Regions from separate parts of the Homo sapiens genome. Here region 1 is linked to region 2. The links come from fine-mapping of genetic effects on plasma protein levels. A gene starts in region 2. The other region holds a variant in brackets. All regions are shown on one strand. Distances are between the middles of the regions.

Region 1 (5,393 bases), 9.9 kb after region 2:
AGGCAATCTGGCCACTTTTCTGTAGAGCTGCTGTGCTCTGCCAGGGGACCACTCCAGTCCCTAGTCGCCTCAGACTCCCTGAAGGCAACAATGGCTAAGGCTGTAAGACAGCAAGGATGGTGGGCTATCCTTGCCTCTGGAAACCCCATCCCAGAGGGGTACAGACCTGTTGCCAGCTCAAAAACACTTGTGGAGGTGGTTGTGGACCTCAGTGAGGAGATTTTGCTCAGTGAAGAGAAATGGGATCCAAGACCCACGTGAAAAAAACAGTCTGGCAGCCTCCCTGTAGAGCAGCTGTGCTATTTTGGGGGCTTCTCCAATCCTTAGTCACCTTGGATTTTGGCAACAATGGCTAAGGCTGCAAAACAGCAAAAATGATGTCCAGCCCCTCCTTCTGAGAGATTCATCTCAGGGGAGGTATAACCTTGCTACCAGTGGCTGGCTGGAGTTCCAAGCCAGAGGGTCTTATCCTGTGAGGTGCCATGGAAGCAGGGCCTGCGGACAATCCCTGCTCAGCCCCTTGGATTCAGCCCCTTTCCTAGGGATGTAGAGATGTCTAAATTCCCAGCCACTTTTGCTGGGAAGCCCTGGTATCTAAGGCTCCCAGGGCTCTGCGTGTGCCTGAGAGGCTACTCTTCCAGGACTCCCTGTAGCTCTGTGTGTCAGACTGCAGGCCTTTGTGGGATGGGTTCACAAGGGGATCTCCTGACCCAAGGGTTGCAAAGATCCATGGGAGAATTGTGCTCCCCCAGGTGCTCAGTCACTCACTGCTTCCCTGGGTGGGGAAGGCTCCCCTGGCTCCATGTTGCTCCCGGGTGGGCAGTCGTCCTGCCTTGCTTTACTTCATCCTCCACGGATTGAGTTGTTTTCTTGATGAATCCCAATGTGTGTAACTGGATGCTTCAGTTGAAGGTGCTGTATTTACTAGCCCCTTCTATTTCTCCTGTGAGAACAGCACACACTAGCTGCTTCTAGTTGGCTACCTGCACTTGCTCAATATTATAACTTGAAGAAGACAAAAAAATACTGACAATTTTTTTGGCATTCTAAGACTAATTCTAAATACAAAAATAAATAAATAAAAGCAAAATTTAGGGGGAAAACATTTTCATTTTGGCATGGACTATGCCTGGAACCAGGAGATTTACCAGCCAGTCACCTAAGGGCAGATTTATTACTTAAGTCTCTTTAATCTTGGACTAGATGCTGCTTGGTCTTCATAGGAACAATCACATATTTTAGGAACAGATTTGCCTTCTATGCCTACAGTGCTTCTACTAACATCAATACTTAAGAGTTACAGAATGTCTTATCCATTGTCATGGTTCCTCACACAATATTGTATTTGACATTTTACAACAAAGAAAGATTGACAATCAGTTCATGCCTATAGAAGTTACTTGCCCAGTTGCTCAGGATCTCACACACATTCCATGGGCAGTTGGAGGTGAGCTGCCGCTGGCCACACCAGAGGCTGCAAGACCAGACATGGACAGGTACAAAGAAGAGCTGTGCCACTTGCACAACCCAGAGGAGAATTGATACATCCTTAACGTTGATTCAAGCAGTGATGAGAACCACGGGTCTTCTATGGCCAGAAGAGCTCAGAAGAGACAGTCCAGCTCTATGGTAGTGATCAACTCTGACTCTGATGATGAATGCTACTCCTATGAGGAGAAGAAAGCTAAGATATTCTAAATAAGCAGTGACGATGAGAGTCTGGAGTGTTGTTATGTGCAGCCCACCATCCAGGAACCCTCCAATAGTTATTAGTGATGGTGATGATGACAATGATGACAGTAATGATTTGGAAGTTTCTGTGCCAGCAGAAGATTCGTATGATGAGGACCAAACTGCCTCAGATGAAGAAGAGCTGGATGAGGCTGCTGTCTGCCAGCATGATTCATCTGATGATGCTGGTTGAGCATGATCTTGGTGAGAATCTTAGTGAACCACCAGGTGATCCTGAGACTAAACTTGAGGTTTCAGAGAGGAAGCTGCCAACTGAGGAAGTGCCTGCACCTGTGGTGGAATAATCAAGGAAAAGGAAGGCAAAGACCAAAAAATATCATGGGGTGACTGAGGAAAAGACAGGCAAAGACCAAAAATATAGTGGAGCCACTGAGGAAGAGGAAGGCAAAGACCAAAAATGTATCTGTAACACCTGCTGGTAAGGGACAGAAAAACCGTGGACCTTCAAAGAAGAAACCCGGTGTGGCCAAAGTTGAAAAATGCAAGACTAGGACTCATAAGCGCAAAGTCCCTGGATGTTTCTTGCTTGACCTTGAAAAGTCAAAACAGTACTCTGGAAAAAAATCTCAAGCGAAATAAGGATGAAC[T/C]GGTTCAGAGAATCTACGACCTGTTTAACAGCTCCGTCTGTGATAAAAAGCTACCAGAGAAACTAGAGATCAGCTAGAATAAAAAGATGCTGAGAACTGCTGGCTTATGCAGCACTGGCAGGAATTACAAAGCAAGGCAGAATTCTTAAGGTTATCTGAGAGTATATTCGTGTGAGCTAAATCCTTTACTGGTAAGAAGTGTTAGAAAAGTTTGTTTTTGTGAAATTAAGGATATTAGAATTTAGATACTGTTAAGTAATATTAGAATTTAACATTCATGTTATTAACCATGATTGACCTTAACAAGGGGCTCTATTGCTAACCATTCTGTGCCCTTGACAGGGTAGATCTGAAGCCCTTGGGATCTACCTTGGGTCTTACTTCAGCTCAATAGTTTTCACACGTAGGACAAAATGCAAAAGAAAAGTGAGTTTTCAATAGTGGCAGGTTGAGAGAAAGAAGAGAATGCTGGATGGGAGGCTGAGGCGGGCGGATCACGAGGTCAGCAGATCGAGACCACCCTGGCTAACACGGTGAAACCCCATCTCTAATAAAAATACAAAAGAAAAAAAAATATTAGCCGGGCATGGTGTTGGGCCCAGCTACTTGGAAGGCTGAGGCAGGAGAATGGCGTGAACCTGAGAGGCGGAGATTGCAGTGAGCCGAGATCGCGCCACTGCACTCCAGCCTGGGAGACAGAGTGAGACTCCGTCTCAAAAAAAAAAAAAAAAAAGAAGAGAATGCTGGAAAGAGGACAAGTTTTAGAGGCAACACTTAAAAACCAGGGCTACTGTGACATCTACCTAGACAGGAAAGATGAACATGTTTCATGAAGTTCATTGCTGATGACACTGAATGAAACTATCTGAGCCATGTAATCAAAAAATAGAATGTTTTCTGCATCTCAAAAAAAAAAAAAGAAGTTACTTGCCCCTAAGTAACTGGCTAACCAGGGTATTGAAATGACTTCCTGAAAGCACACTAATGACACCAGTTGGAATAAAACAGCTTGCAAGTGTGGGATTCAGTTTTTTAAGAGGGGGTATTTGCCTTACCAATATATGTTGCTGTCTCTGCCATAGCCAGAATGTACAGGTATGGGAACAAAAGCATAGAGTTAGGATTCAGATTTGGAGTAGCCTTGTACTAGTACACCTAATAATTCACTTGAAAATTGTCTCCTTTTCCCAAGATCTTGTTTGTGCTGGGTTTAGAGGTTCTAATGCCTATGGCAAGATTATTCTAATAAGGAATATGACCATTATCCTGATGAACAGGAAGATGAGACTTCCTTGTTGCACGTTGGGCTCCGCAGTCATTGAAGCAGCTGGCAGAGAAGAAGATTGCTGTGGCCAGGCGCAGTGGCTCACAGTTTAATCTCAGCACTTTGGGAGGCCGAGGCGGGCAGATCACCTGAGATCAGGAGTTCGAGACCAGCCTGACCAACCTGGAGAAACCCCATCTCTACTAAAAATACAAAATCAGCTAGGCGTGGTGGCGTGTGCCTGTAATCCCAGCTATTCAGGAGGCTGAAGCAGGAGAATCACTTGAATCCAGGAGGCGGAGGTTTCAGTGAGCTGAGATCACGCCATTGCACTCCAGCCTGGGCAACAAGAGTGAAACTCCATCTCAAAAGAAGAAGAATAAGAAGAGGAATAAGAAGCAGCAGCAGCCGCAGCAGCCATACAGGCAGAAATTGGGTTGCTCTTACACATTGTGGTAAGGACTATGCCTGGAAGCCAGGAGATTTACAGGAGCGTATTTTAGCACCACTTTCCTCATAGTCTTGGTAAATACAATGCTAGGCCAACCCAAGAAACACACCAATAACTTGGATCCAATATAATGATAATCTAGGTCATTGCTTGATCCACACACTTTGTACAATTAGCTGGACAGAGTCAAAGAAAAGAAAGATGGAGTGCGTAGCAAGCTATACCTTGTCTCCTGCTACTCAAGTGGTATCTGCTGACAGAGAAATAGACCTCAACCACACAAAAAATCCACAGAAGTCCATCTGCGGCTCAGATAGAATCATCCTGGATATAGATAGCTCCTATCCCAGAGTCCTCTTGTCAAATCTTCTCTCAGAAGTTAGTGTAGAAATGATTAATCAAACCATAGCATGTTGAGACATTTCTGTTACTTCCACAAATAAATTTTGAATTCATTGAAATAACTGGCTTTTTACATTTAAGCTAGAAAGTAGTATATTAGAAAATAGGTAGGATTTGCCTTGTCAAGTTAATTTGAAGGTGCAATTTCTATAGTTCTTGTTATCATCATGATTTATAAGAAAAGTATTCTTGTTTCATTTTATTTCTTTTTTATATTCTTATTGGTACATAATATTTTCATGTATCTCTAAGGTACATGTCATATTTTGATACATGCATCGGTTGTGTAATTATCAAGTCAGGGTGTTTAGGATATCCATCACCTCAAGCATTTATTATTTCTTTGTGTTGGGAACACTTCAAATCTTCTCATAACTATTTTGAAATATAAAATACATCGTCGTTAACTATAGTCACTCTACTATTCTGTTGAACACTAGAACTTATTCCTTCTAATTGTATGTTTGCATACCTCCCCCCTCCCACACACACACACACACATCCTTCACAGCTGCTAGTAACTATCATTCTACTCTTTACCTCCATTACAATAACCTTTTATGGTGGCAGCAAAGGGTGGGCTGGGCGGGCAGCCCTCGGGCCCCCAAAGGAGTGCAGATGTCAGCGGTGGTGGAAAGGCGGTCCCCAGGCCACTGAATGATGCACTTGGGCACTTGTGGGCCGTACCAGGCTTTGCGGGTCCAACCTCAGGCCTCCTGATGGTGCACACAGGCTGTGGTAGGTGGGGCTTGCGAGCAGCCAGGCTGGGTCTTCAGTCAGGCCTCCTGATGGTGCAGGAGCATACGCGGAGCTACGGGTGGGACAGGGCCATGGATCCCCAGGCCCCTGGGCAGTGTGCTCAGGCACTGGGAGAGGCTTTGCTTGGTGGTGTGGTCCTACCCTCAGACAACCCAATCCCCTATGTTGTGCTCAGGGC
Region 2 (5,393 bases):
ACCCTGTGTAGCTAGGACTACAGGCATGTGCCACCATGACTGATTAATTTTTTTATCTCTATTGTTTGTAGAGATGGGGGTCTTGATTTGTTGCCCAGGCAGGTCTTGAACTCCTGGCCTCAAGCGATCATCCTGCCTCGGCCTTCCAAAGTGCTGGGATTAATGGCATGAGCCACCACACTTGGCCCCTCATTATATAAGTTTGACTGAAAATATGTAAATGTTTTATGCTACTATAAAGTAAGTTAAACAAAAATGAAAAAAAATCCATAAAAAATGAAGAAAAGGAATCTAACTAGGTATTGTTAGTGTCTTCACTATAGAGAGAGGAATTACTTAAAGTGATTTTAAAACATTTAACTGTGCATGCTCAATGGAATATATCTTAAGGATTTTTTAAAACCGCAAAACATTTTAATCTGTTTTAAGTAACTATTATTATAATATTATTTCTATAGTGATTCTGAAACTACTACATATGTATAGTGGGATAGAGCAATTATGTAATTTCTTACTATCACTGGCAACAAAGGTTTTTCAATATATGAGAAAAGATTTACAAATATGTCATCACAAAATTAAGTTAAATGAATGAACATCATAACCCCAAGGCTCACATTGTCAATCTAATTCACATAAAATACGTCTTACCTCAAGCTTTAATAAATATTAGCTAAAGGTACAAGACATAAATATTAGTATGTGTCACTTAAATATCTGGGAGCCGAAAATCTGCACATTTTTGCTTCAGAGAGACATTTATGAACAGAGTGTGGAAAAAAGTCTGCAGAGAAGTCACTACATGTTGTAGTCTTTCAGGTTTAATATCTCTAATTTCCAAAAATGAAATAAAAATTGAGTGTAGGAAGTAAAGACTTGAAAATATGGGAATCTAAAAATTCACATGGAAGAGGCAATAAATTTCTTATACATAGCACGTATGTAACTCTAAGATGAATCACTGATGGATGATACTTGTGGAAGGACTCAAGAGATAAGTAAAATTTTCATGGGTGAAGTTATTAAAAGAGAAATATTTAGAAAGCAACAGAACAGAACAGACAGTCTCTATAACTGTGATTATTTGTGTCTTTAATTTCTGCTTATCTCTTTTGCCAAATCACATTAAGGTGGCATGATGGAATTGCATTGTGTATGGAGGGTATGCTTGAAGTAGCAAATTAAAATGTTGATTGCTGGTGTATAAACTTTATTTTGAGTCAACTTGGTGAAAAGCATAAAGTTTTTGAGAAGTTGAATTAAAAATTAGTATTAAAGGCTGGGCGCGGTGGCTCATGCCTATAATCCCAACACTTTGGAAGACTCAGGTGGGTGGATCACCTGAGGTCAGGAGTTCAAGACCAGCCTGGCCAACATGGTAAAACCCCATCTCTACTAAAAACGCAAAAAATTAGCCAGGCATGGTGGCGGGCACCTATAATCTCAGCTACTCAGGAGGCTGAGGCAGGAGAATTGCTTGAACCTGGGAGGCAGAGGTTGCAGTGAGCCGAGATCATGCCATTGCACTCCAGCCTGGGCAACAACAGTGAAACTCCGTCTCAAAAAAAAAAAATAGCATTAAAACACCATATTCTATGAATGATAAGGAGGTGAATGGCAGCAAATATTCACTAATTTGAAATTATTAATTTTAATTGAGTATGCATATTTCCTCAGAGAATGTCCTTAAGAAATTATATCAGACAAAATATTACAAGTAAGTGTTAGTTCCACATTGATAAATGGGAGAGAGAGAGATTATCTCATAGTAAATTTGTAAGATTAAATGAAGGAACATAGATAAAACATTCTGTATAGTGCCGGAAACTGGTGTTTCTTAAATGGTAAGAGAGGTTGTTATTTTTAAATCATTATTAATATTGAAAGAGAGGACAGGTGAGAGAGATACAGAGACGGAGAAAGAAAAGCACCCAAATACTGAAACAGTCCAATAACACAATGGAACAGGATACGGGAAACTACCATGTTAATTCACACCAATTGAAAAAATGAAATTAAATTCCATACCTTTAAATGTAAGTTGAGATGTTTGGGCAGAACTCCTTTTCTTTGACTGTACATTCAATGTCATGTATCTTTCTTCATCTTGCATCTTCAATGTGAGTGAATGTGTGTGTATACAGGTATGTTTTGTTTTATTAAGTATAACATGAAATGAGGAAAGAATAATAAATCTGCTGCTAATCAGAGATGCTCCTCAAATTGTCCTTTCACAGTACATATGAGGGTTCACAGTTTCACTTATTTGTGAAAACCTCAGAGGAAATGTTTTCTTTTTAAAAGTTGCTTTCCCATGACATAGATAACACATAATTTCTCAACTGTCCACCACATATTGAATTGAATATTCTTTTGAGTGCTTTACAAATTTCTCTTAATTTACCCTTAAAGTCAAGGGAATGGAAATTATGCCCCTTTTTGAGGTGAGGTTAATAATATATAGCTGCCTTTTGTTATAGCCTAAATATTTATATCATTTGAATTAGCCTCCCTAACATATTGATATTTAATTTAATAATTTGCAATTGCCAAGCAATTAAATTCTTTATCCTAAAACAATATTGTTTATAAATCATGCTAATAATTTAACAGTATAATTTGATTTTTTTTAACTTTTAGGTTCAGGGCTACATGTGTAGGTTTGTTATATAGGTAAAATCATGTCACAGGGGTTTGTTGTACATATTATTTCATCACCCAGGTATTCAGACTAGTACTACATAGTTATGTTTTTCTGATCCTGCCCCTCCTCTCACCCTCCACCTTCAAGTAGGCTCCGGTGTCTGTCATTCTCCTCTATGTGTACATGTGTTCTCATCATTTAGATCCCAATTATTAGTGAGAACATGTGGTATTTGGTTTTCTGTTCCTCCATTAGTTTGTTAAGGGTAACGGCCTCTAGCTTCATCTATGTTCCTGCAATGGACATCATCTCATTCTTTTTTATAGCTGCATAGTATTCCTTTGTATATGTGTATCACATTTTCTTTATCCAGTCTACCATTGATGGGCATTTAGGTTGATTGCATGTCTTTGCTATTGTCAACAGTGCTGCCATGAACAGATGCATGCATGTGTCTTTATGATAGATTTATATTCCTTTGGGTATATACCAGTAATGGGATTGCTGGGTCAAATTTCTGGTTTTAGGTCTTTAAGGAATCACCATGCTATCTTTCATAATGGTTGAACTAATTTACACTCCCATCAAAGGTGTATAAGTGAACCCTTTTCTCCACTACCTCATCAGCATCTGTTATTTTTTGACTTTTTAATAATAGCCATTCGACTGGTATGAGATGGTATCTTACTGTGGTTTTAATTTGCATTTCCCTAATGATTAGTGCCTACTGGAGGATAGAGGGTGGGAAGAGGGAAAGGATCAGGAAAAATAACTAATGGGTACTAGGGTTAATACCTGGGTGAAGAAATAATCTTTACAGCAAACCCCCATTACACAAGTTTACCTATGTAACAAATTTGCACATGTACTCCCAAATTTAAAATAAAATTTTAAAAACACAATATACCCTTTTAAATAAGATAAACTATTAATTCAAGGAGAAAATATTTGACAAATTATCAGAAATATATTTGTTGCTTAATGACAAAAGTAAAAGGATAATACATTTTTGTGTTATTTTTGTTTATTTTTACTTGCTAAATTTTGTTCTTTAATTTATAATTACAATTTCTTTGGCCATTATTTGACACTCCAAATGGATAAGAAGTAAATTAAGATTGATAAATAAAACACGAAAAGTATCTGTTCATGTCCTTAGTCCACTTTTTAATGGGGTTGTTTATTTTTTGCTTGTTGATTGGTTTAAGTTTCTTACAGATGCTGGATATTAGACCTTTGTCAAATGCATAGTCTGCAAAAATTTTCTCCCATTCTGTAGATTATCTGTTCACTCTGTTGATAGTTTCTCTTGCTGTGCAGAAGCTCTTACAGTTAATTATTTTGTTTGTTTGTTTTGTTTTGTTTCACTTTTGTTGCAATTGCTTTTGGCATCTTTGTCATGAAATATTTGCCCATTCCTGTGTCCAGGATGGTAATTCCTAGGTTATCTTCCAGGGTTTTTTATATTTTGGGGTTTTAGACATAAGTATTTTATCCATCTTGAGTTGAGCTTTGTATATGGTATAAGGAAGGGGTCCACTTTCAATCTTCAGCATGTGGCTAGCCAGTTATCTCAGCACCATTTATTAAAAAGGGAATCCTTTTCCCATGGCTTGTTTTTGTCAGCTTTGCTGAAGATCAGATGGGTGTAGTTGTGCAGCACTATTTCTGGGCTTTCTGTCCAGTGGTCTATGTGTCTGCATTAGACCATTGTGTTCCAATGGTCTATGTGTCTGCTTTTTTTTTTTTTTTTACCAGTACCTTGTTATTTTGGATATTGTAGTACTGTAGTATAATTTGAAGTTGGGCAATGTGATGCCTCCAGTGTTGTTCTTTTTGCTTAGGATTGCCTTGGCTATTTGGGCTAATTTTTCTGTTCCAGATGAATTTTAAAATAGTTTTCTTCTAGTTCTGTGAAGAATGTCATTGGTAGTATGATAGGAATAGCATTAAATCTGTAAATTGCTTTGGGCAATATGACCATTTTAATGATATTTATTATTCTGATCCATGAGCATGGAATGTTTTTCATTTGTTTGTGTCATCTCTGATTTCTTTAAGCAATGTTTTGTAATTATCCTTGTAGAGCTCTTTCACCTCCCTGGTTGACTGTATTCCTATGTATTTTATTGTTTTTGTGGCTATCATAAATGGAATTGCATTCCTGATTTGGCTGTCAGCTTGGGTGTTGTGTATAGGTGTACAGGAATGTTGGTGATTTTTGTATGTTGATTTTGTATCCTGAAACTTTGCTGATGTTGTTTATCAGTTGAAGGAGCTTTTTGGCCAAGAGTATGGGGTTTTCTAGGTATATAATCATATGGTCTGAAAACAGGAATAGTTTTACGTCCTCTCTTCCTATTTGGATGCCCTTCATTTCTTTCTCTCACCTGATTGCTCTGGCAAGGATTTCCAATACTATGTTGAATAGGAATGTTGAGAGTGGGCATTCGTGTCTTGTGCTTTTCAAGGGGAATGCTTCCAGCTTTCACCTGTTCAGGATAATGTTGGCTGTGGGCTTATTACAGCTGGCTCTTATTATTTTGAGATGTTTCTGCAATACATAGTTTATTGAGTGATTTTAACATGAAAGCGTGTTGGTTTTATTGAAACCTCTTACTGTTTCTATTGAAATAATCATGTGATTTTTGTGTTTAGTTCTGTTTATGAAATGAGTCATATTTATTGAGTTGTGTATGTTGAACCAACCTTGCATCCCAGAGATAATGTCCACTTGATCATGGTGAAT

Direction of the effects. Positions count from the first base shown, and alleles are read on the strand shown. Strength reflects both the effect of a copy and how common the allele is.
In carriers of allele C in region 1, the plasma level of the protein whose gene starts at base 2,177 in region 2 tends to be higher than with T alone (weak association).

The links. A credible set is the group of variants that fine-mapping cannot tell apart. PIP is the posterior inclusion probability: the model's chance that the variant is causal. The UK Biobank Pharma Proteomics Project read protein levels with antibody pairs (Olink). The fine-mapping took linkage between variants from a reference panel, not from the people measured, so its PIPs are less certain.
Region 1: its variant is the best candidate, but not a certain one, in a credible set for the plasma level of the KLRF1 protein (UK Biobank, PIP 0.69).

What each region holds. Positions count from the first base shown.
Region 1 is chr12:9,814,413-9,819,805 of GRCh38, reverse strand. It overlaps a transcript of KLRF1 not described here and the pseudogene GCNAP1. Among named protein-coding and RNA genes, the nearest start is that of KLRF1, 10 kb to the left of the region's middle. The variant T/C (reference allele first, on the strand shown) is at 2,340.
Region 2 is chr12:9,824,265-9,829,657 of GRCh38, reverse strand. It overlaps KLRF1 (killer cell lectin like receptor F1), which reads right to left and starts at 2,177. Exons shown (of 6, transcript NM_016523.3): 1 at 2,029-2,177. The coding sequence starts at 2,113.